Linked DNA regions of Homo sapiens: all the other regions are linked to region 3. Evidence: fine-mapped expression QTL. A gene starts in region 3. Each other region holds a variant in brackets. All regions are shown on one strand. Distances are from middle to middle.

Region 1 (7,423 bases), 93 kb before region 3:
GTTATGATTTCTCATTCTCTGTCTCTCTCTTGCTCTCGTTTTTCATACGTAAGTTTCAGCAGTTGGACACTCTCCCCAAGAGAGCAGCGTAGAAAAGAAACATCCGTGGCACAGTTGTCCCTCCTTAATGGTTGAGTGCACAAAAGTTACATATAAAAAAGGTAGCATGAAGTAATAATGCTCCCACAGACTCTCAAAACACCAACTGTAAGCTACTTCATTCTTATGCCATTGTAAGGGAAGGAGTTGGGCAATATTATCATCCCCGGTATTCAGGTGTGAGATTGGAGGAATGGAAGCATTCAATCATTTCCCCAAGGTCGCTCTGTGAGTCTCTGGTGGAAACTGAACTTCAGTAACAGCGCAATTAGCACTTCATAAGCACCTGGTAGACCTTGACACTGCTGATCCTGGGTCCCTGGAGATGTACAGCTATTCTCCAGATAAATACTCTCTCTCTCTCTCTCTGTCCCTCTCTCTCTCTGTGTGTGTGTGTCTCTCTCTCGCTGTCTCTCTCTTCTTCTCTTTGTCACACACACACACACACACACACACACACACACACGTACATACCTATGGTTGCATAGAAACAGGAACCTTCACTCTTCCTGGGCTCTGCTTTTCACAGGGTAACCAGGTATGTTATACTGTGATAACACACCTCACAGACATGTGTGTTGGGTTAAAGAAAATCCTGGATTTGTAGATAAAAAGAACTATACCATCTCTGTGGGGATTACAGTACCAGTCCTGAATTCTGGGATATGACTGATCACAGTTATATTGCTTAGAAGTGAAATGAAAAATTGAGGTCTGAATAAGTTTAATTCAATGAACATGCAGTAATAAAGATAGGCTACAAGGTAAATAGATTTATATTTACAGAAAACCATACAAATATAAAGTATTTGGGAGTAAAAATTAATGAATATGTGGACCAGGTCCTGAGGGAATATGCTAAGAACTGAACCTATTTCCTATAATAAACTGAATTTAGGCAATAATTAGTACCAGCCAGCATTAATTGTGTTCCCAACTGCTCAAGGAGTTTAGTCAATTATAAAATTGTAACGGTTCTACCAGAACATGCGTGAACTTGGGGACTTTTCTGGTTTCATCAGCCAAGGCCCAGGGCCAAGACCTCAGCATAAAACCAGTCTTTGCGACTCTCCTCGGGACTTCCCAAGGAAAAATGGGAAATCAGTGTCAGATAGTGTTTTAAGAAACAGCTCTCCTGGGACTCACTTTTTAACTAAACAAAATCCTTAAGGCAAAGGACTGAGGCACTAGGCATGGAATTCTAAGTATCAGCCGGTGGGTGTGGGAAGAATTCTGACTCTCAGAAGTCTGTGTTGTGCACACACCTTTAGTGATAAGATTGCTCCACCAGCCATTACAAGTTAGAGAAAAAAAAAAAAAAATCATGACACTAGAAATGTCCAACAACAGGGGACTAAAAAAATATGGCATAGACATATGATTATATACAAATAATGTAGAAATATTTATTGGCAAGAAAAGTTTAAAAAGCATTAAGGGGAAAAAAGCAGATTGCATGCATTATTTTCAGTATGATCTTGTTTCTGTTAAAATTTTTTATATATATCCATGTACATGAAGACATGTAGAAGATATGTACCAAAATATTAATAATGATTACCTCTGAATTGTAGTTATGAATTTTTCCATTTTACTGCCATTTCTAATTTTTTTAAACCAGGGGCTTGTGTTGTTTTCTCTCTTTTTAAATCTTTTTGTTTTCCTCAAATATAGAACACTATACAGGCTACTCTGAATAAAAATGGTATTTTAATTTAACATAAACACAAAAGGCTATCCTCCCTTTTATCTCCTAAAGTAAGGAGAGATTCATGAGCTGCTTAGTAGTTCATCAATCATTCATGTGTCCTATGTTCCAGGTGTAGAGTATGGGAATCTAGGCTAAACAAAGCTGCGCTGCATCCTGTGTTCCTCCATAGAGAAGACTGAGGAAATTTCCACAGCAGCAGGATACCAGGCAGAGTTTCCAATGGCAGTGGGCTACTGCCATTCATTTTATTTCTCCCACCCTGGACACATGTAGAATATCAAGGTAGTCTTTGAGGTAGGACAGTTCTTGTGATCTCTTAGGTCATCTCATTGGGTTCCTGCTGTTGCTGGCCATGGGGCCATCCCTGACACTTTAAAATTAGTTACTGACACAGATTCCTAAAAGCATAGTCTGAGATATAAAAGTTATTTCTGAGAAACAAAGTTGCTTCATTCTGAAGACTACGTTTAGAGGTTGTGCACCAGCAGACAAGAGTTTATGTAACAGTTTGTCTTTGTTCCTCGAGCCATGTGTGACCTTTCTGCTCCTTCCTGCTGACACCATCCCCGACCGAAAAAGACAATCTGCTCAGCTTAATGTCCCTCCTTCCCTCTGGAGCCTTCGTGGAGTGTAGTAACAGCAGCTGCATGACTTGTACATAATGTAAATACTTTATTTACTTTTGTATTTAATTTATGCATCTGTCCAATGTTTGCACAGCTGTTTGATGTCTGTATACTCGGAGATTAGCTTTTGTGGGTTTTGTCGATCTTAAACCCAAAGCATAGAGAAATGGAAGGGTCTCATTATTTGCTTTTCTTTGCCCAGCCTCCAGCATGGTACCATACAGATGAGAACTTAATGAAGAAGGATGCTTCTGAGTAAGATTTAGTCATCTCCTTGAAGATACTTTTCTCCTTTGGAAAAGGAAGAATCAAACTTTCCTGAACTTCTCAGGGAGAACATGGTGGTTGACTTTGTTTCTTCTGTCAAAGGACATCATTATAGTACCAAGGTGACATCGAGGAGGTTTTAACTCTCCCAAAAAGTTGCACCAGAGGATTTGGGGAGGTGTAGGATGTGACAGCCAGCCCAGAAGCAGGGCTAGTAATTATAAAATGGGTGACGATGGAAAAATTGCTCTC[T/G]TCTTCGGGGTTACTTGCCCATCAAAGAACAGCAAGGACTGGGCATGTGAAATGCCAATGGTTTGGCTAATCAACACGCCACAGCTTAGCTGGAGTCACTGTACTTGAATGTGGTTTTGTTTTTAATGCTGTGTTCTTGTGGGCATGGAAAGAGTTACAGCCAACTGCCCCAGGTATGGTAACTAGAGGCGGTGGTGGAAATGTAAATGTAAGGACCCTTTGTCTTCTCCCCTCCAGTAGTAAAGGGGACGAAAGAGAGTGGAGAAGGATTGCACTCTTCTGGTGGACTTTCTCCTGTGATGCACAGAAATGCACGGATAACGTTAAAAATATTTTAAATTGTATTTATTTATATATTTTAGAGATGGGGTCTTGCTATGTTGCCCAGGCTGGTCTCAAACTCCTGACCTCAAGTGATCCTCTTGCCTTGGCTTCCGTGGTACCTACCTGTAATCCAAGCTATGATCGCTTGAACCCAGGCATTTGAGATGAGACTGGGCAACACAGTGAGACCCCCATCTCTAAAAAAGTATCGTCTTGTTTTGTGTGACCTGGCCATCAACACATATTTACAAAAAAGAGATATCTCTCTTTTATTATCATAAAGCATAGACTGAATTTTAGATAGGTTTTGAATCTCTCTGTGCCTGAATTTCTCTCAAAATTAATAGTGCCTCATATTTGATAAAGCACTAAGTTTTCTTTTGAAAGGTGCACAGAAAACTCTGCATTGCCTAAATTATAATTTTCTCAACTATTTGACCCAACCTATCACTGTTGTAGTATTCTTTAACAGAGCATTCTGTTACCATGAGTAAGGGAGTTGCTGCTTTTTTTTTTTTTTAAATCAATCAAGAACTACAGATAAGTACTTTTAAAATCAGACCATGACTGGGGAAAGCAGGAGTCAACGAGTCAGTTTGAGTCTGTTATCAGCTCTGCCTGAGACTGGCCTTTTATATCACTCTGAGGAGTAATGCTGTTTGTTTTCAGCATGAAATACATAAGAGAAAAAATTAAGTAGGGAACAGGAGAATAATATTTGGATAGGGTAGTTTTATTATTTTGTCTGACACATTATGTCCCCTAGCCCTCAGTATATCCAGGGATCATCTATGCTTAAAGTTAAATACAAGATAACTTCCCAAGCCAAGTACAAGTGATTTTAAAAAATAATAAAATGCCTTATAGGATTACCTACTACAGTTCTTAAGTTGCCCAGGAAACATCACATCACTGCATGCAGTGTCAGAGACATCGGTAAATCCTCCGCCAACAAGTATTTTGAATATAGCAGAAAAACACAGATGTTTTAGACCTTCTGAGATGCATTAAGTTCTGGAAACTGGAAGCCATAAAAGACAAAATCGTGGGAGGGGAATTGCTGGGAGCACCCTGGGAAAGCAGCCACCCTGGAGTTGAGTGACCTCTCTTTGATCTCTAGCTTTCCCAAGTCACTTTCCCATGCATTTCCTCAACACTGGTTTCAGTTCTTTAGATCTAATAAAAGCCTTTGGGGTTGGGAGCATCACTGAGTAGAGTGCTGATTCAGGCCAAGCTTGGAGGGAGGAGTGGAGCATTCAATGTGTTTACAGTAAAGTGTGTGTGTGTGTGTGTGTGTGTGTGTGTGTGTGCGCGCTTATGAGTAATAGCAACTTCTCACCACTGTCACAGCCACCAATGGGAGATTTAGCTTCCTCCAAGTCACCTCAATTAAACATACGCTCTAAATAAAGCAGCATGCTTGCTGGAGACAGAGCTTCAAAAAGTCCCCTAGATCTCTTTCTCCTTCCAAACATTTTGCTGCCCTGAAGCATGTCATATATAGAAATGTTATAGTTGCCTCTTTGTTCATTCATTCTTTCAAGGATCTCCACATTATATTGTTTGATAAGAAGTGGAATTAATACTTTACACAAATGCTTGCATTTCCGTGCTATTCCTTTCACTTCCTGATCATAGTGCACTCTGACTATAAAATGGATTACGTGTTGTTCCTCCTAATGCTTCAGTATATAGAGCCTCCCATGGTAGGTGATATACTTGGGTGACTCTACAGGTTGCTTCGCGACTTCCAAAAGTTTTTTCTGATAATTTTGGAAGTGCTGCATGATTTAGAAATGCTGATTCACTTCAGTCTTTAGACACATTGAAAAAATATATTATTTCTTCCTCATTTTCAAAATATTACACAAAGAAGTTTGGAAAGTAATAATAATCACTGTTCACTTGCAAAATTCCTTTCTTCTAAAACATTTTTATAATAATTAAGTCATTCTATCTTTATGATACCCAACTAAAGAGGACAGCGGGCAAGCCCATTTTACAGATGGGAAAACAGATGTTAATTGCCTTGTCCAAGACTACATAGTGAGATAAGATAAAAAATGAAAGGGAAACTTGTCCTCCTAAAATTTATGTTCTTTCTCACCATGGTGATTATTTCAGTTTGGATTGAGAAGCCAATTCATATAATTTGGCTTTTTCTGTGCCTTTAATTTCTACATATTAAAACCTAATTGCAAGGTTAGACTGTGATTTTGTCCTACGGGCACTAAATTCCTCATGTAATATGTACCTTTCTCTGCTGAATCTTGATATTTTCTTAGATTTTCAGTATAGTTTGTCTTGATTTGACTTGCAGTGCACTGCAAATGATATAATTTTATTGTGGAATATATGAGGCTGGAGGGCTGGGGAGAGGTCAGAGCTGAAAGTACAGGAAATTTAAATTACATAATGTTACACTTTGCAATTGTTTCCACTTGTACTAAGTATAAAGATAGATCCATGGCAATACACAACAGCAGGTAAGAAGTGTGTATAAAGACTTTGCACCCTGATAGTACCATTTATGTATTCATTTGGCATAAACATACCCATTTGTGAATAAACAAAGTCCAGGCCCTCATGGTGCTTACATTTTAGGAACAGAGTCCAATAATAAATATTGATTACACAACATAATCATGTAGTGATAAGTGCTATGAGAAAAAAAAGAAGCAGAGTAAGGGGACAGAGAAGGCAGAACTATTTTATATAGTAGTAGGAAGGTTAATTTAAAAGCCAGGAAGGTGGAGTCTTCCTGGCAGGTCTGAGAAACCTCAGGAGGGAGGTGGGTGTGGCTGAGGCAGAGTGAATGGCAAAAGGTAAAAAACTGAACTGGTGAGTCAGGGCTGAAAGGACTTGAAAGGCTGGGAAAGGACTTTGGATTTTATTGCAGTGTGATTAGAAGCACAGGGCCCTGGAGTGTTTTGGGCAAGAACAAGGACATTATCTTACCAATGCTTTACAATAAATTCTCTGGTGGCTGTGTAGAGGCTAGACCGTGGAGGGGAAAAAGTGGAAGCAGGGTGATGGTTCGTCTGTCCCAGTCACCCAGGAGAAAGATCACGGGGAGGGCAGACATGGGTGTTCGTGGTTAAGAGAGAAGGATGCGATTGGCTTCCGTACCATTTGAAGGTAGGCTAAAATGAACGTGGTGATTGAAAGGAAGAGATATTTTTTGTCCTGTGATGAGGCAGACTTGGAGGAATCAGTTTTGGGTTTTGTTTACAATATGGAAATCAAAAGTTCTGTTTGAGACACATTAAGTGGGAGATATTCAAATGGAGATGCCTGGAGGCAGCAGGATATAAGAGGGTGGAGTGCTGGGGAGGGGCCAGGGTTAAAAGTAGAGGCTACTTAAAGCCTTGCTGGAGGATGCTGCCTAGGGTGGCAGTGTAGAAAGAGAACAGGAGGGGCCCACGGTCAGAGCCCTGGGGCAGGCAGCAGATAGAATCACAGAGGAGGCCAAGGACCCCATTCAAAAGTGGACATGTCAATAGGTGGAGTTGGTGTTAAGGTTTAAAGACTGAAAAAAAAAATTTCATAGGAGAATAACACAAAGTTCTGAATTACTATGATAGAGGTTCATGATGAAAATGTGATAGGGAAAGGAGAGAAGATGGAAAGTTTATCATTTCAATGAATGCATCAGGGATTAATAACATCTCAGTGAACAGCAGTACTGGTGTTCCTTAAAATGTTGCCCATGGTAGTGGGCATGGATTCCATGTTTACAGGGGCTGTTTCACGAGCGTCAATATTAGCAAGGAGTATGCTACAGACAGACAACACATCTTTTTTTGACATCTCTTTTTAATAGGGACACAATATGCAGCTGGCGCTTTGGCCAGGAAAGAATAAATAAGCAAGACAATGTCAATTGTCGCTTTGGGAAAATTCTGTGTTAAAATTCTCTATGAAACCTGGCCTACTTTCAGCAACTTTTCTCAATACAGCTGTTGAGCATTCTCAATTTGGGGATGCAAATAAGCTTCTTCTCTCTCCCTTGCTCAATTCCCAGGCCATCTTTCAAACTCAAGGTTAGGTACGTATTGCAGTCCTCTGTGTGGCTGCCCTCGTCACTGGCCCTACTTGTCTGCACCGTGACGCTGCTTCAGCGTCTAGAGGGGACTGCAATGCA
Region 2 (7,423 bases), 49 kb after region 3:
AAAGGAGCTGGAAATTTTGGAACTTAAAAATTTAAGGAGTTTTATATTTATTATAGTCATTTAAAAATCAAAACAATGGTAAAAACCTAAAATGGGGCTCTATCCTTTTGTAATTTATGGTTATGTACTCTTCATAAATCTGTAACTAGATTCAGTATTTCAAGAAATCTAATAAAATGCTATAGTTTTTCTGAATTACTAAAAGTAAAATATTTACAGTTTACAGTGAGATTGTTTATCAATTAAATATTAGGCTCTTTCAGAAAATAAGATATTAAAATTATGAAGAGAAAGAAACCACGGAGAGTACTGAACCCTGTATATACTAATGTATGTGTAGCATATACAATGTGGATATGCTGGTGATGATTCATGTCCTGGCCAAGACAGAGCATAATACTGCAAGATTTCATTGCACTATTCGAAATGGCACACAGTTTAAAGCTTATGAATTATTTCTGGAATTTTTCATTTTACATTTTTGGACTGCAGTTGACTGTGGATAACTGAAATCATAGATAAGGTGAAATTTAGACTGGTTCTTTTTAACCCATCAACTTGTAAAAACATTTTCAATTTGAATAAAAGAAAAAGTATTTGCAAATGTTTTTTAAATCAGTATCCTTAGCTCTTTTATTCCTGTGTGATGTTTAACTGTTTATTTTGATTTATGAGTGAATTTTAATTCAGAGGACCTAGTGATGTTTATCATCTCAGTCTTTAAAAGCGGAATGTTTTATGTTATGTTGCTTTGTGAACCATCACAAATGTAACCATTGATTAATATGCAAAGCCCAGGTTTTGAATTTTTGCCAGTTTGTTTGGAGCTCTTCAGTAAACAACTGTTAAGTCTGTCTCTATCCTATCCTCTCCCGTGGTACGTCTTCTCTGGCTAAAGATTCTATGACTTCTCTGGCTAAAGATTCTGTGACTTCTCTGGCATGAATCAAGTGGTATTAATTATTGAAGTTATTTAATACGTTACTGAGAACTCTGATAGTTGGAGTCTATGAAATTGATAATTTTATAGGTCAAAATTTTAACAATTGGCAGTTTCATAACGTAAGGCCTATAACCGTTTGAATTGTTGAACCAATGCTTAAGCATGTGACTATTGTTAATCATTAAACTGAAAACTATATTTCAAGCATGCTCTTTAAGTTGTTAGGTGATCTGGATGTTGCTTTTACTGATATGATTTGTTGTATAGCCTTTCAAAAAATTTTTAAAACTTACAAGATATTCAAGGAAAAAACTACATGAAACATGCAGGTGGAGGGACAATGGTTCTTCTAGGTCTTACTTGGAGTGTCATGGTGGTCTAGGATCTTGCTATTTCTTCCTTTATTAGAAATTTTTCAAAATAAACATCTAGTTTGTGGTCTTTCTTTTCTTCTACCCTTCTTCTATTCATACTCTTTTCCCAGAATTTATATCATTTATATTTATAATATATCTTTAAATATTGCATGCACATTTTTACTAGTAAATCTAATGTACACAGAATTCAAGTGTAGAAAGAGATCAGTATCATTTTCTAGCAGCGCTGAAGACTGACAATAACTTACCATAATAAAGTACCTGTAAAGGTAAAGTTCTTAGAGTTTCATAGGAACCTTTGTATAAAATGTCTGGTAAAATTATATACATTGTTGGAACCCTGTATTTTTAGCGAGCCTTCTGAATTTAGGAGTATCTTTAATGATAAGGGACTGAGATGAAGGAAAGGATGAATCTCAGTTATAGAAAAGTATAACATTTAAAAGCTTTGCTAATATGTAAATGTGTTAATTTTAGGTTGATTAACCAGCTGTTGCCTAGCAGAGGAGTTGTGATTATTATGCTAATGGTGCTTTCTAATAGTTTTTTCCAAATTATTTTAAATATCGCCTCCGAATAATTTTTCCCTGTGGTTAATTGGCTCTCTGAGGAGATATTTTCTAGAAGTGAAGTTTAAGGCAACACCCTTGCTGCAGAAGAGCTAGTTTTATAATCACTTTCAGAAATCATGTTTTTTCCTTCAGTCTTCTCATCCTGTTGTTCCCACTCAAAATAGAGAATTGAATAAGAATAGTGATACAATTTACCCTTGGGGCTTATTTGATGGCTATTTCTGTGTTTGTGAATTACCAGCTACTGAAATTTACCTGTCACCTTCTTTGATTCCTGTTTCTGGTTTTTGGCACTTCCACATTGGTGGTGCTAGATAACACATGGGAGGATGTGTTCCTGAGCCTGGTCTGTGGTGCCCAGATATTAAGACATTAGGAAATATTCCCCATTTAGCACTATTTTTAGTTCAGAGCTCTTGAGTTTTCTTATATGTGAAGTGTTTTTTTAGTAAAATTGCTAGGCTGTTATCAAGTCTGATGGAGGTGCATAACGCTGAAAAGAATTTTGAGAGAAACCACTAAACAGCATTCACAGATTCGATTTAGAAAGTGTCTGTGTATTTTAAATAATTATTGCCATATTCTGTGGAGACTCATACCTGAACTCACAATATATAAACATGTAAAAGCCTAATTATTTTTTTCCTTAGTACTGTACAGTGATGATTTTTCTAAGGACCTGCAACAATTTTGAATAAGTAAAGAAAATTGTAGTTTGTTTTTAGCATTAAGTCTATTTTGTTATATCAAAATTCTTTTGCGGATATTCACACATGTAACTCAGTTATTTGAATTCCTTGTGACATACTTATTTTTTAAGAATCACTTTAGTAACATTGTTGTTCAAAATAATATAACACAGTTTTAATAAATCTATCTTTCTGATGGTACAATAGTTTCCTTCCATCCAAGGGGAATATGTTCCAAGACCCCCAGTGGATGCCTGAAACTGCAGATAGTAATGAACACTATATATACTGTGGTTTTTCTAGTACATATGTACTTGATAAACTTTAATTTATAAATTAGGCACAGTAAGAGATTTACAATAACTAATATAAAACAGAACAGTTATAATGATATACTGTTCACAGTTTCATGGATAGAAGGTTCATTCTTCCTGTAGATCTCAGCAGCCTCAGTGTATGATTTCTTTTCTTTCCTTATTAAGTTGAGAACTTCACCTTTTCACTTACAGAAGCACTTTCCAGCTCCTCTTTGTCATATCCATGTTGGCAGCATCACTCCTCTTGTGCTTTGGGGCTATTATTAAGTCAAAGAAGCGTGAGTTGAATACAAGCACTGCAATACCATGAGAGTTGGTCTGGTCACTGAGATGACTCCCAAGTGAGTCACCGGCGGGTAGTCCACAGTGTAGATGCACTGGA[C/T]AAAGGAATGATTCATGTTCCAGGCGGGACGGAGTGGGGCGGTGCGGGACTGTGTGAGATTTCATCACATTACTCAGAACTGCATGCAGTTTAAAACTTATACATTGTTTTTTTCAGGAATTTTCCATTTAGTATTTTTTGACCGAGGTTGACCATGGGTAACTGAAACTGTGAAAAGTGAAATAACAGATAAAGGAGGACTACTTATTGGATTTCCCCTACATTGTCTCTGTTCTTTTTAAGAAAGGGGACAATACTTAGACCAATGGTAAAATCTTCTAAAACATGTCATTTCAGAAATTCATTATGTGTGTTTCTTATGGTTAAACTGCAGGAAACTGGCAGTCCTGTTTGCCTTTCTTGACAGCACAAATTTTGTATCAAAATCTCGTTTATTCAGTTGATTATATATATATATATATGCAGTTTTACCAGCATATAGACAGCTGCTATTTTTTTTTCTATTTAAGAGGCCAAATTTTTTTCCCCTTCATCACTATATTTTAAGCAGAAATGATATTTTTGTCACCATTTCAAGAAATATTTATAACATTAATCTAAAGCTTCTGTGACCTCTGTCAAATTCTGACTACAAATGATAAAGATAATACAATAAATAAAATTTGAATCTGTTAAAAAAAGTGAAAAGTGGCAAAAAGTCACTTTTTCCTCAGAATTATTTTCAGATGCTTTTTGTTAGCCTTATACAGAAAGAACACTTTGATCAAGTCTTATTATACTTTCCCCATGCATATTTTAGTGGTTTTTTTTTTTCCTTTAAGAAAAAGAGCAATCCTGGTCCACTTTGATAGCAGCATATACTTAACACTGATTGCATTTTGATGTCCTTTATGAATGTGTATTGGGTGATATTATTTCTGATTTTCCATGGCAATTTCAGATGTTTTATTGTTCTTAATTATTAACTACTCATTTTGATTAGTAGTTTGCCTTTCATGACAGTACAAATTTAGTATTGAAACCTTGTTTATTCAGTTGATCTCATGTATATAAATATACATATGTATGTTATTTGACTACGGTGCCTTGTCAAAGTATGAGAGCGTTTTATGTAAATGAACCTGTACTGTATATGTAATTATGTCTGTACTGTTCAGTAATTAATGTCATAGATCTGGAGTTGGGACATCCTACCTTCTGTCTGCTCTGTTCTCTACTGTAGGAGGCCGATCCTGGCAAATAACATTTCTCAGGCTCCTTTGCCAGCAGGCTTTTGGCTCGGTTTGGCAAATGGGAAGCACACGTGGAAGACAGGAGGGCGGAAAGAGGGGAAGAGCCGGGGTATTTCTTCCTCTCTTTTTCTGCCTTGAGAGGGGTCTCCACTACTGTTCAGATAGCTTATATCAGATAACTCATAATTTGGTTCAGTGATTAACAAAAAAATCTTTTTTACTACTATAACATGGGCAAATTTCTTCATAGAAGCATTTTTATTCTTGTTCTTTCCTGACCATAAATATGAATGCCTAGCTTTGCACATTGTAGTTATATAGATTATCTAATCTCATTGATTTATGACAGGTTGTTTTACATTTGCAAATGGTTGCTGTAAGTAATACGCAGAGGAGGAAGAAGCTAGCTTGTGACTTTCTCTTTCTCTCTTTCCTTTTTCTTTCCCTTTATCTCTTTTGCCCTTTCCCTTGTAAAAATAAAACATACAGAAAAGTGAAAAGAAAAAAAAAAGAGGCTTTCCCATAATCCTATTTCCCATGGTGGTGAGATTATTTTGGTATAGGCTTTTTACAATGCAGAGAGTTTTTTTTTTTGATTTTATATATTTTATTTTTAATTGTAATAAAATACACATAGTATTTACCATCTTAACCATTTTTTCTTTCTTTTTTTTTTTTTAATTATACTTTAAGTTCTAGGGTACATGTGCACAACGTGCAGGTTTGTTACATAGGTATACATGTGCTGTGTTGGTTTGCTGGACCCATTAACTCGTCATTTACATTAGGTATTTCTCCTAATGCTGTCCCTTCCCCATCCCCCTACCCCATGACAGGCCCCGGTGTCTGATGTTCCCTGCCTTGTGTCTATGTGTTCTCATTGTTCAATTCCCACCTATAAGTGAGAACATGCAGTGTTTGGTTTTCTGTCCCTTGCAATAGTTTGCTCAGAATCATGGTTTCCAGCTTCATCCATGTCGCTACAAAGGACATGAACTCATCCTTTTTTATGGCAATGCTGAGAGTTTTTTAACAGAACATCCGTATAAGCACATTTTTCCTTATACAAATGTCTTCAAATGGTTAGTTTCAAAGAATATTGCTTTGGGATATATTCTCCTTTCCCATCATGTCTGGGAATATGATTTTTAAAATAATTATGGACAATATACAATTTTATATTTCCTTGCTTTTCCATTTAAACATAAGCATTCTACCTGATTATTAAGGTGCTGTGCAGTGCAGGTGAAACTTCATATTCCCTATTGTATATTATGGGAGTTGCCATAGGTAAAGGAATTGGCAGTTTCACTGGAAGGAAAATATCTCTGAAAAAGACTGGCTAGTGGACACAGTGGTAGACACCTTGGAAGGGGGAATTAAAAAACGTTGCCATGGAAAGGGAAAGGAATTAAATTTTCCTCCCTTTAGGGGGAAAGAGTGTTGTCTTGAGAACTGCAGAATGGGATGTGGAACAGATTGTAGACTTCACACTTAAAATGCAAGATTGCCAGGGAGATAGGAGAGCTGGTTATTGAACTGTGTCAGATCTGTGTACCTCCCTCCAGTTACCTATCTCACCTGCAGAATTTGCTCCTTCCTCTAGGATTTGCCTTCAAGTGCATAGCTTACTCCTTTGAGGAAGCCTTAAGAAGGTGGTTTGGGATGGTACTGAAGTCATTGCATTCAATGGGGTCCTGGGAGTGCTGGGAGGCAAAAGCTTCTGAGGCTTTACATCCCAAGTCCTGGGAAAGAGTTTTACTTCCATGAGAGATAAAGGAGCATATAAAATCTGAGAGCACTCAGAAATTCCTAAGGTCTTAGATGTTGTTAGTATTTGTTTTTTGTTGAATATGTATAAGAAATTATCACAAGCTTAAGGGCTTAAAAGAATACCCATTTATTATCTCACAGTTCTGCATGTTAGAAGTCTGGGCAGGCTTAACTGGGTTCTCTGCTCAGGGTCTCCTAAAGCGGAAATCAAAGTATTGGCTGGGCTGGGTTCTCATCTGCAGATTCTGTTGGCAGAATCCAGTTCCTTATGGTTGTAGATCTGAGGTCCCTGTTTCCTTGCTGGCTGTCATTGTGGGAGGTGTGGTGGCATAACTTTTAGGGGCTGCATGAATTCCCTCTCATGTGACCCCCTCAGGCTTCAAAGCCAGGGGTGGTACTTGGTGCTTCAAATCTTTGACTTTCCCTTCTGCTACCAGCTGGAGAAAACTCTACTTTTGAAGTGCTCATGTGATTAGATTAGGCCTATCCAGATAATTTTTATATTTTAAGATCGACTGACCTGGGATTTTAATTACATTTGCACCCTCTATTCTCAGCAGTACCTAGATTGATTGAACAACCATGGGGTGGGAATCTTGGGGGGCAAGGGAGACCCTCTTTAGAATTTTGCCTACCACAGTCTTACATGTTTTCTCTGGTATTTATACTTCATAATATATTTAACGTGATAACATTGATATATTAGTTTGTTTTCATGCTGCTGATAAAGACATATTCGAGACTGGGAAGAAAAAGAGGTTTAATGGACTTACAGTTCCACATGGCTGGGGAGGCCTCACAATCATGGCGGAAGGCAAGGAGGAGCAAGTCATGTCTTAACATGGATGGCGGCAGGCAAAGAGAGAGAGCTTGTGCGGGAGAACTCTTTATAAAACTGTCAGATCTCGTGAGACTTACTCATTATAACGAGAACAGCACAAGAAAGACCCGCCCCCTATGATTCAATTAATTACCTCCCACTGGGTCCCTCCCATGACATGTGGGAATTGTGGGAGTTACAATTCAAGATCAGATTTGGGTGGGGACACAGTCAAACGATATCAATTGACATTTGTCAATGGAAATTACAGATATTTTAGAAATTTTAATTTCACTAATATACCATAAAATCGATTGGGCAGGGGAAGCATATATATAATCTGTTGTTGTTGATGTT
Region 3 (7,423 bases):
GCTGTGATTATTACTACTTACCACTGCTACTAGGAAAGTCAGCACTTTTAACAATGTTTCTCTTCGAAAAAATTCATTCTGACTTGCAGTGTTTAAATTGTTGCTGTAAGAATGCTTCTCTCTTTGCTGCTGTGGGATTAGCTATTTCCCTTCCCCTCAGGTTCCCTACCTCTTGGAGGTAGAAGATGAGAACCAGCTAGTTCGAAATTACTGCTGGTGACTCCTGTGGTTTCAGTCAAAGACTTCAGCTCCATAAAAGCTTGTTGGGAAAGTGAAGGCTGATCAGGGTTTAAACAAATCAGGAAGAAAAGGAGTTAAAACCACCTTGTGGTCTTCAGCAGTATCTAGTCTCTCTCACACACTGGTAGCCAGAGTGATGGACTCGGCTGTGTTCCATCCCTGCCCCCGCTGTTAACCATCACCTGTTGATTCCGCTGGATTTTCATTTACTACTGGAGAAGGGAACAGAAAACAGAAACACATGTAGGTTTTGAATTTAAAAACTTTTTTTCCTTTTTTTTTGAGACGGAGGTTCGCTCTTGTCTTCCAGGCTGGAGCGCAATGGCGTGATCTCGGCTCACAGCAACCTCCAGCCGAGGCGGGTGGATCACTTGAGGTCAGGAGTTTGTGACCACCCTGGCCAACATGGTGAAACCTCTTCTCTACTAAAAATAAAAAATTAGGCGGGTGTGGTGGCGGGTGCCTGTAATCCCAGCTACTCGGGAAGCTGAGGCAGGAAAAACATTTTTAAAAAACTTGTGATGGCAGAGTCAAAACAGAACAAGCCTCGGAAGATGTGCACATTTAACTGTCCTTCAGTATTCTGTGTAAAAATACCACTCACAGTTCACGTTTTCACTTTTGAAAGGCTCGAAGTGAGGGAAATCAACCATCATAATGAAAGAACAAAAGAATGATTAAAAGAAAAGGTGAATAGGATTCATGAAAACGCTTTGAGGCCGGGCACAGTAGCTCATACCTGTAATCCCAGCACTTTGGGAGGCAGAGGCAGGCAGATCACTTGAGATCAGGAGTTCGAGACCAGCCTGGCCAACATGGTGAAACCCCATCTCTACTAAAAATACAACAACAACAACAAAAATTAGCAGGTGTCGTGGCACACACTTATAATCCCAGCTGCTTGGGAGGCTGAGGCAGGAGGATTGCCTGAACTGGGAGGTGGAGGTTGCAGTGAGTCGAGATCGTGCCACTGCACTCCAGCCTAGGTGACAGAACAAGACCCTGTTTCAACAAACAAACAAAACAAAACAAAACAACCCCCCCCCCCACAAAAAAACAACACTTTGAAGGAGTTAGAGTTGTTTAGAAAAAAAAGAACTAGATTCTTAATGAAATAATATTTAAAAATCCAATTCTTTACTGAAGGTCATGAAAGATTCTATTTAAAATTAGTTAATATTTTGGTAAGGATTATATGTGCATGACATAGTGAAAAACTATCTTTCTTTCTTCTTTTTTTTTTGAGACGGAGTTTCACTCTTGTTGCCCAGGCTGGAGTGCAATGGCGTGATCTCGGCTCACTGCAACAATCTCCACCTCCCGGGTTCAAGCGTGTCTTTCTTTTATTCCTCTTCTCCAGCTGTCTGTTTTCCTCCGTGGAGACAACTACTGGTACTAGTACTGATCCTCTTCTTCCATAGATAGTCTGCATTTGTTTCTCCTAACTCCTCATTGAAAACACAGATGGCAGCATAGCATACTGCACATACTGCCCTATACTTTTACCCCTTTCTTCTTTGCCTTAACAGTATTCCTTAGGCTTTGTTCCGTATTGTGACCTGTAGGGCTGCCTTGTTTTCTCATATACTCACTGTGTAGCATTCCATTCTATGGGTATTCTGTAATTTGCCTAGTTTTCTATTCCTCAGGAAGTTAGGTTGTTTTTGCTATCCTATTTTGCTACTATAATGTCTACCAGAATGAATGTTCCTGTTTGCCTCTTACTTCTACTTGTGAAAGTGAGATAATTTCCTAAAAGAGAAATTGCTGGGCCAAAAAGATGTGCATTTTGAATTTTGGTAGATTTTGCTAAATTGCCCTGAACACAGGTTGTACCAGTTTAAACTCCCACTGACAGGCATGTTTCTTTTCCCATGTCCTCTTTCAGTTTGTTAAAACCTTTTAAAAGCTTTGCCTATGTGATAGATTTTTTAAAAGTCATCTTATTATGTATTGTTTTACATTTCTGTTATCAGTGAAGTTACTTTTAACATCTTTTAAGTTTCTTTTATGTTTATCTCTGAGTATTATATTTTTGCTCTTTGCCTATTTATCTTTTGAGCTCTTGGGTCTTAGAAGTTTTTAAGAACTTTTTATATATTAAATAAATTAACCCTTTGTGATATGTTTCAAATATTTTTTTCTCAACTTGTTTGCATTTTGACTTTGCTTATAATGTTGTTCTGTTGTTTTTGGTTTAAAAAATTTTTTTTGAAAAGTTTTTAAAATTTATATATGTATTATATGTATTATATAATATATATTATATATAATATATAATATATAATATATATTATATATTATATAATATATATTATATATTATATATAATATATATTGTATATGTATTATATAACATATATTATATATATTATATAACATATATTATATATTATATATAACATATATTATATAATATATATATATTATATATAATATATATATATTATATATAATATATATATTATATGCTCTAGGGACCTGCATATATATATATTTTTTTTTTTTTTTTTTTGAGACAGGGTCTTGCTGTGTTGCCCAGGCTGGAGTGCAGTGGCGTGATTATGGCTCACAACAGCCTTGAACTCCCAGGCTCAGGCGATCCTCCCACCTCAGCCTGTTGAGTAGCTGGGACTACAGGGTGCACCACCACACTTGGCTGTTTCCCGCCCCCCCCCCCCCCCCCCCATAAAGATGAGGTCTCGCTAAGTTGCCCAGGTTGGTCTTGAACTCTTGAGCTCAAGTGATGCATCCACCTCAGCCTCTCAAAGTGTTGGGATTACAGGCGTGAGCCACTGTGCTTGGCTCTTTATTTTTCAAATATGAAAATTCAAGAAGACTTCAGTAGATGTCTTCTTAATTTTTGATTAAATCAGATACAGTGGAAAGTCAGGGCTTTGCAGTTTGTTGCTGCTTGGTAAAAGACAAATAGCCATGAATATCCAGCAGGTCAGTAGTTTCTGTCAACATGGCTCTTTTCTAAGTAACAGTTGTGTTGTTGACAGTCATAGATGCTATACCTTTCACTCATTTCCCAGCAAGTCATTTTATTGCCACCATGACTGTTTGCAGTTTAAATGTGTAAAACTTTGCATGCTTTTATTTGATGTGATTGTCAGCATCTTTGAACTTGGGACACTTAAACTTTTTTCTTTCAAGGACTGTGGACAAGCCCAGCTTTTATGTCTCACTCTGGATACTTGAGCAGAGATGCATATGGCAGTCCTTACTGAGAGGAAGGAAAGATGGGTGTAATATTGGAAGGCATGAACCTAGGCAGGTCCCTAGAGCATACTTATCTTCTCTACTTATTGTGAGCCTCCTTAACTGTGAGATCTATAACTGTGCTTCTCATGTGCTTGGCCAGTGGATGGTGTTATTCTTTCTAGTTTTCTATTTACCTTTCTGGAGTCCGAGATCAAAAAAGGATACAAATAAAGCCTGCATTTTGAAAATACCTATTTTTAACTTATTAAGTGGAAACTTTGAGAAGAGTCATTATTACAGAATAATTAGTAAAAAATCACCTTCATTTAGATTCTGCTTTTGGTTATGTAGGTCACGCAGCCTAAGGCAGTGGGAGGGTCTAGGTGTCACCAGTATGGCAGTCAGACGCAGTGACTGTGCTGCCTGTGATTTCCTGTCTGTACCCTGACTGTAATTAAACCAGCACCAGTACCTGTCACTAGGGCACCAGACACACATCTGAGTATACATGAGTAGAGCTGAACAACCTGAATGTTGGTGCTTTTTATTCCATGCCTGGAGGTTTAGTTTTTTTTGTTTTTTAAGTACAAGATGGAGACTGAAAGTGAGAGTAGCACTTTAGGGGATGACAGTGTCTTCTGGTTGGAGTCTGAAGTTATAATCCAGGTGACTGACTGTGAAGAGGAAGAAAGGGAAGAGAAGTTCAGGTGATTATGGAATTCACAGTTCCTTTGTCCTGTCCACTCCCTACCCCCACCCGCACCCCTTTTTCTTCTCTGCATTTCGGTCTTTTTTCCAATAAGACTTTCTGTTTTCTGGGGGAAGGTTTGGAGCTCAAGGGAGCAGGTTTTGAGTTGTATATAGCACTCCTCATTCCACAACTTGCCCTGAACTTGTAAAATGCATTTTAAAGGACTTGTTAGAACGCCAGGAGGAGAAGGTGTTAGACAGGTTTTGTAGTAGCCTTTCAGGAATTTCAAGTAGACACTCATAATGAACTACTACCCCTTCCTGTATCTGATTTGTATCAAATAGATTTGATCTGAATTTGTATCTAATAGATTTTTCTTCCTCTTTTTCTTGGAATGTGGTGTGTGTGTGTGTGTGTGTGTGTGTGTGCGTGCCTGCCTGCCTGCCTGCTTTGTTTGCCTTATGCATGGGTATGAAAAATTCCGATTAAGTACAGATTGGTTATTTTGTGGCTTTGATCTTTACCCTTGTCTCTGATCTTGTATCTCATGCCCCCTTTCCCCCAAATCTCTCTTGGTTTTTGAATCTCTGGTAGTATTAGTAACTTCATAATTGAAGTTTTTAGAGGATGCCTCCTGATGAAGCAGCTCTCAGTTTAGTGTCTGTGGTGAAGAAAGATGTCTTAACCAGTTTGTGAAAACAGAACCAATGTTTCATTCATTCTGTTGTACTGTTGCAAATTTTAGGGGGCTTTATTCTGGCTTTTCTTTTTCTTTCAGAGTTAGCGATGTAATACCTTTGAGTATCACAAAAATCTCTTGATGAAGTTTGAAGTTTGTTGCTGCATATTATCACTGCCACTCACATGTGCAATTAAACATCTTTTATAAGTTTACCTATGAGAACTTGGATAGGTGAATATACTGTTTTCATCAGATACTGTCTTTGTGTTTAATGCTGAAAAAGAGTTTCTCCTTTTCTCGAGTCAAAGGATTTCTTTATCCACAAATTTTATTTTTTAAAGTCTAGGTTAAATGATGGAAGGGATTGAATATTGGGAACTCTTGATAACCCTCACTAAATTTTTTACTCTGGGGTTCAAATAAATGAGAAGTATATTTAAAATTTTAAAAGAATAATTTTCAGAGTATAAAAATGAATTATTAGCATATGATTATTTTTTGTCTGAACTTTTGTCTCATTTTCCCATAATTTTATCTAGCCTTTCAAATTTGAGTAAGTCCCTTCCCTTCCAAGGTATGCTAATTGTTAGTCACATGTTCTGCTTTTTAATATGGTTTGTGTCTTGCTAACAATGAGTAGGACTGAAGTATTTGTTTTGCTTGTAATAAAACTTTTTGACCTGGTATTCAAATTATGGAAGTTATTTGGGTATTTGTCAAAGGAAGAAACAACTTGGAACTTATTTCATTGTTGTTTTTATAACAGATTTGGTACTGTAATCCTAGATTTACTTGTAAGGCAGTGGGCGTCTCTCTGGGATTTTCTTTTGACAGTTAAAAGCAAATTTGTGTAAGGATGAGCTCTTCTTTTCCTTGGGAGTATGTGACAGCATTTTCACTCTGAGAAACTGAGCTAGTGATGTGTTGTTTAAGGAAACTATGATACCATAGGGCATTTCTCTTCTGTTTATATTTCCTATCTGAATAGCACCATGGCTCTCCTAAATCAATTATATCTTTGTGATTTGATCTGATTTTATTTACAAATGTAACAAAGAGGTCTGGGCAAGGCCCAATTTCATGTAGTGTCTCTCACGCATTCAGCAGTGAGGCATGAGGAAATGTGGCAGCAGAGTGGTTTCACAACCTCGTGGTGGTGTTCCTGCCGAGATGCCCTACAGGAAAATGGAGGCATGGGTGTGGAAGGGGAAGGGTCGGATAGGAGTTGCAGCTGTAACCTTGGGAGGACCAAATAGTAGACTCAGTGTGGTATGACAGTTGTTTTTGTAAAATCAATGTAATAATTTTAAAAATGTCTTACTGTGTTTTTATAAAAATCTCTGCAAATACATGTGACATCAAGCTGTCGTATTGGTTACATTTCCATTCACATACACACACATAGCTGAGATGAGGGCAAAAGATTGTGCACTTTTCTTTTTCCCTGAATAGCTTGTAAACTACATTTTAAATGCACTCTTAAAAGCCTGCTCTTGTGTAACTTAAGGCACCATGGCTAAGAGAGTAAAGTCATACCACACCTAGAATGTAGGCTTCTGGTGCTTCCAGGTGCCATCTGCTTTAGGAGGAAGTAGTCTCAGAGACAAGTTAATGTTTGTCCAGTAGCTTTTGAAATAGCATTTATTTTTGGACTCAGTTGGAGGAAAGGATCCTTTTTATTAACACTCTTTCACTATGGGAAGTTGCCGGTCTCCTTCATGGTGGTAGTTTAAATTTGTCTGCCATTGACTCACAGATCTTTCATTTTCTGATTTCTTATTTGTAGTCGGTATTATTACCTACCTTGTCACTGTGGTAAAATAGTTATTAGACTAGAATATTTAGTCCTTAGAATAAAATAGTTCCTAGAGATGATTAGAAAAATCCATCCCTGGATAAGAAGGAGGAATATAAGGCAGAAAAGGAAAAACATAAATGTTTTAATTCTATCAAGAAAGAAAAACTTTACTTAGAAATTGTTATATGTAATGTACTAGGCCATATATATGCTTTATACAGTGTATCAGTTAACTGCTTATCACTCCTATAAAGCAGGTATCATTTTTCCTATTTCCTCGGTGAGGAATTTATGGCTCAGAGAGTCACACAGCCCACATTTGTCATGGTGGAGCAAAATTTTGCAAGTGGTAGCACAAAAATTTGAACCCAGATGTAACTGACTTTGAAAGTGAAGACTTTAATGAAAGATTTTTGGGGCTATCTTCTGCTAAATGCTATTTTCTGCTAAGTGATAACTTATAAGAGGCTACAGCTGATATCTCAAGTTTTGAAATTCCTTTTTTTTGAGGAGGTTATGAGCATCAATGACATATAGATTATGTGACCATCATAAAAATGAAGTAATGAACACAATAATGTGACTTTTAAAAAATGTGACCTCTAGGACACCTAGGAATCATGAAAGGTTCTAGTTCTTTGGCATTTGAAGGTAGAAATGTTTATCATATGATTTTGTTTAGACTTCCCTAATACCACGTTATGGGCTGATAGACAGCCTGGCAAATATGACATATAATTTGAAGCAGCTACAGAGATGATATAGTGCTTAATTGAACCATATTTTTGATCACGATCTGTAGATG

Direction of the effects. Alleles are on the strand shown, and positions count from the first base shown. SD is a standard deviation of normalised expression in the study named. Not every link is listed here.
For the expression in whole blood of the gene that starts at base 3,912 in region 3, G is the high allele of the variant in region 1 and T is the other (large effect, 1.3 SD a copy in Lepik 2017).

Evidence for each region.
Region 1: its variant is fine-mapped to the expression of ARHGAP32 in whole blood (TOPMed, PIP above 0.99).
Region 2: its variant is fine-mapped to the expression of ARHGAP32 in tibial nerve (GTEx, PIP 0.95).

What each region holds. Positions count from the first base shown.
Region 1 is chr11:129,282,020-129,289,442 of GRCh38, reverse strand. LOC124902791 (a long non-coding RNA gene) reads left to right here. Exons shown (of 2, transcript XR_007062950.1): 2 at 2,639-4,483. LOC399975 (a long non-coding RNA gene) reads left to right here and starts at 6,279. Exons shown (of 2, transcript NR_145484.1): 1 at 6,279-6,417. RefSeq lists an enhancer at 5,911-6,412. The variant T/G (reference allele first, on the strand shown) is at 2,956.
Region 2 is chr11:129,139,352-129,146,774 of GRCh38, reverse strand. All of the region lies in intron 2 of ARHGAP32 (Rho GTPase activating protein 32), which reads left to right. Among named protein-coding and RNA genes, the nearest start is that of ARHGAP32, 49 kb to the left of the region's middle. RefSeq lists an enhancer at 2,834-4,033. The variant C/T (reference allele first, on the strand shown) is at 3,281.
Region 3 is chr11:129,188,814-129,196,236 of GRCh38, reverse strand. ARHGAP32 (Rho GTPase activating protein 32) reads left to right here and starts at 3,912. Exons shown (of 23, transcript NM_001378024.1): 1 at 3,912-4,154. The coding sequence starts at 4,039.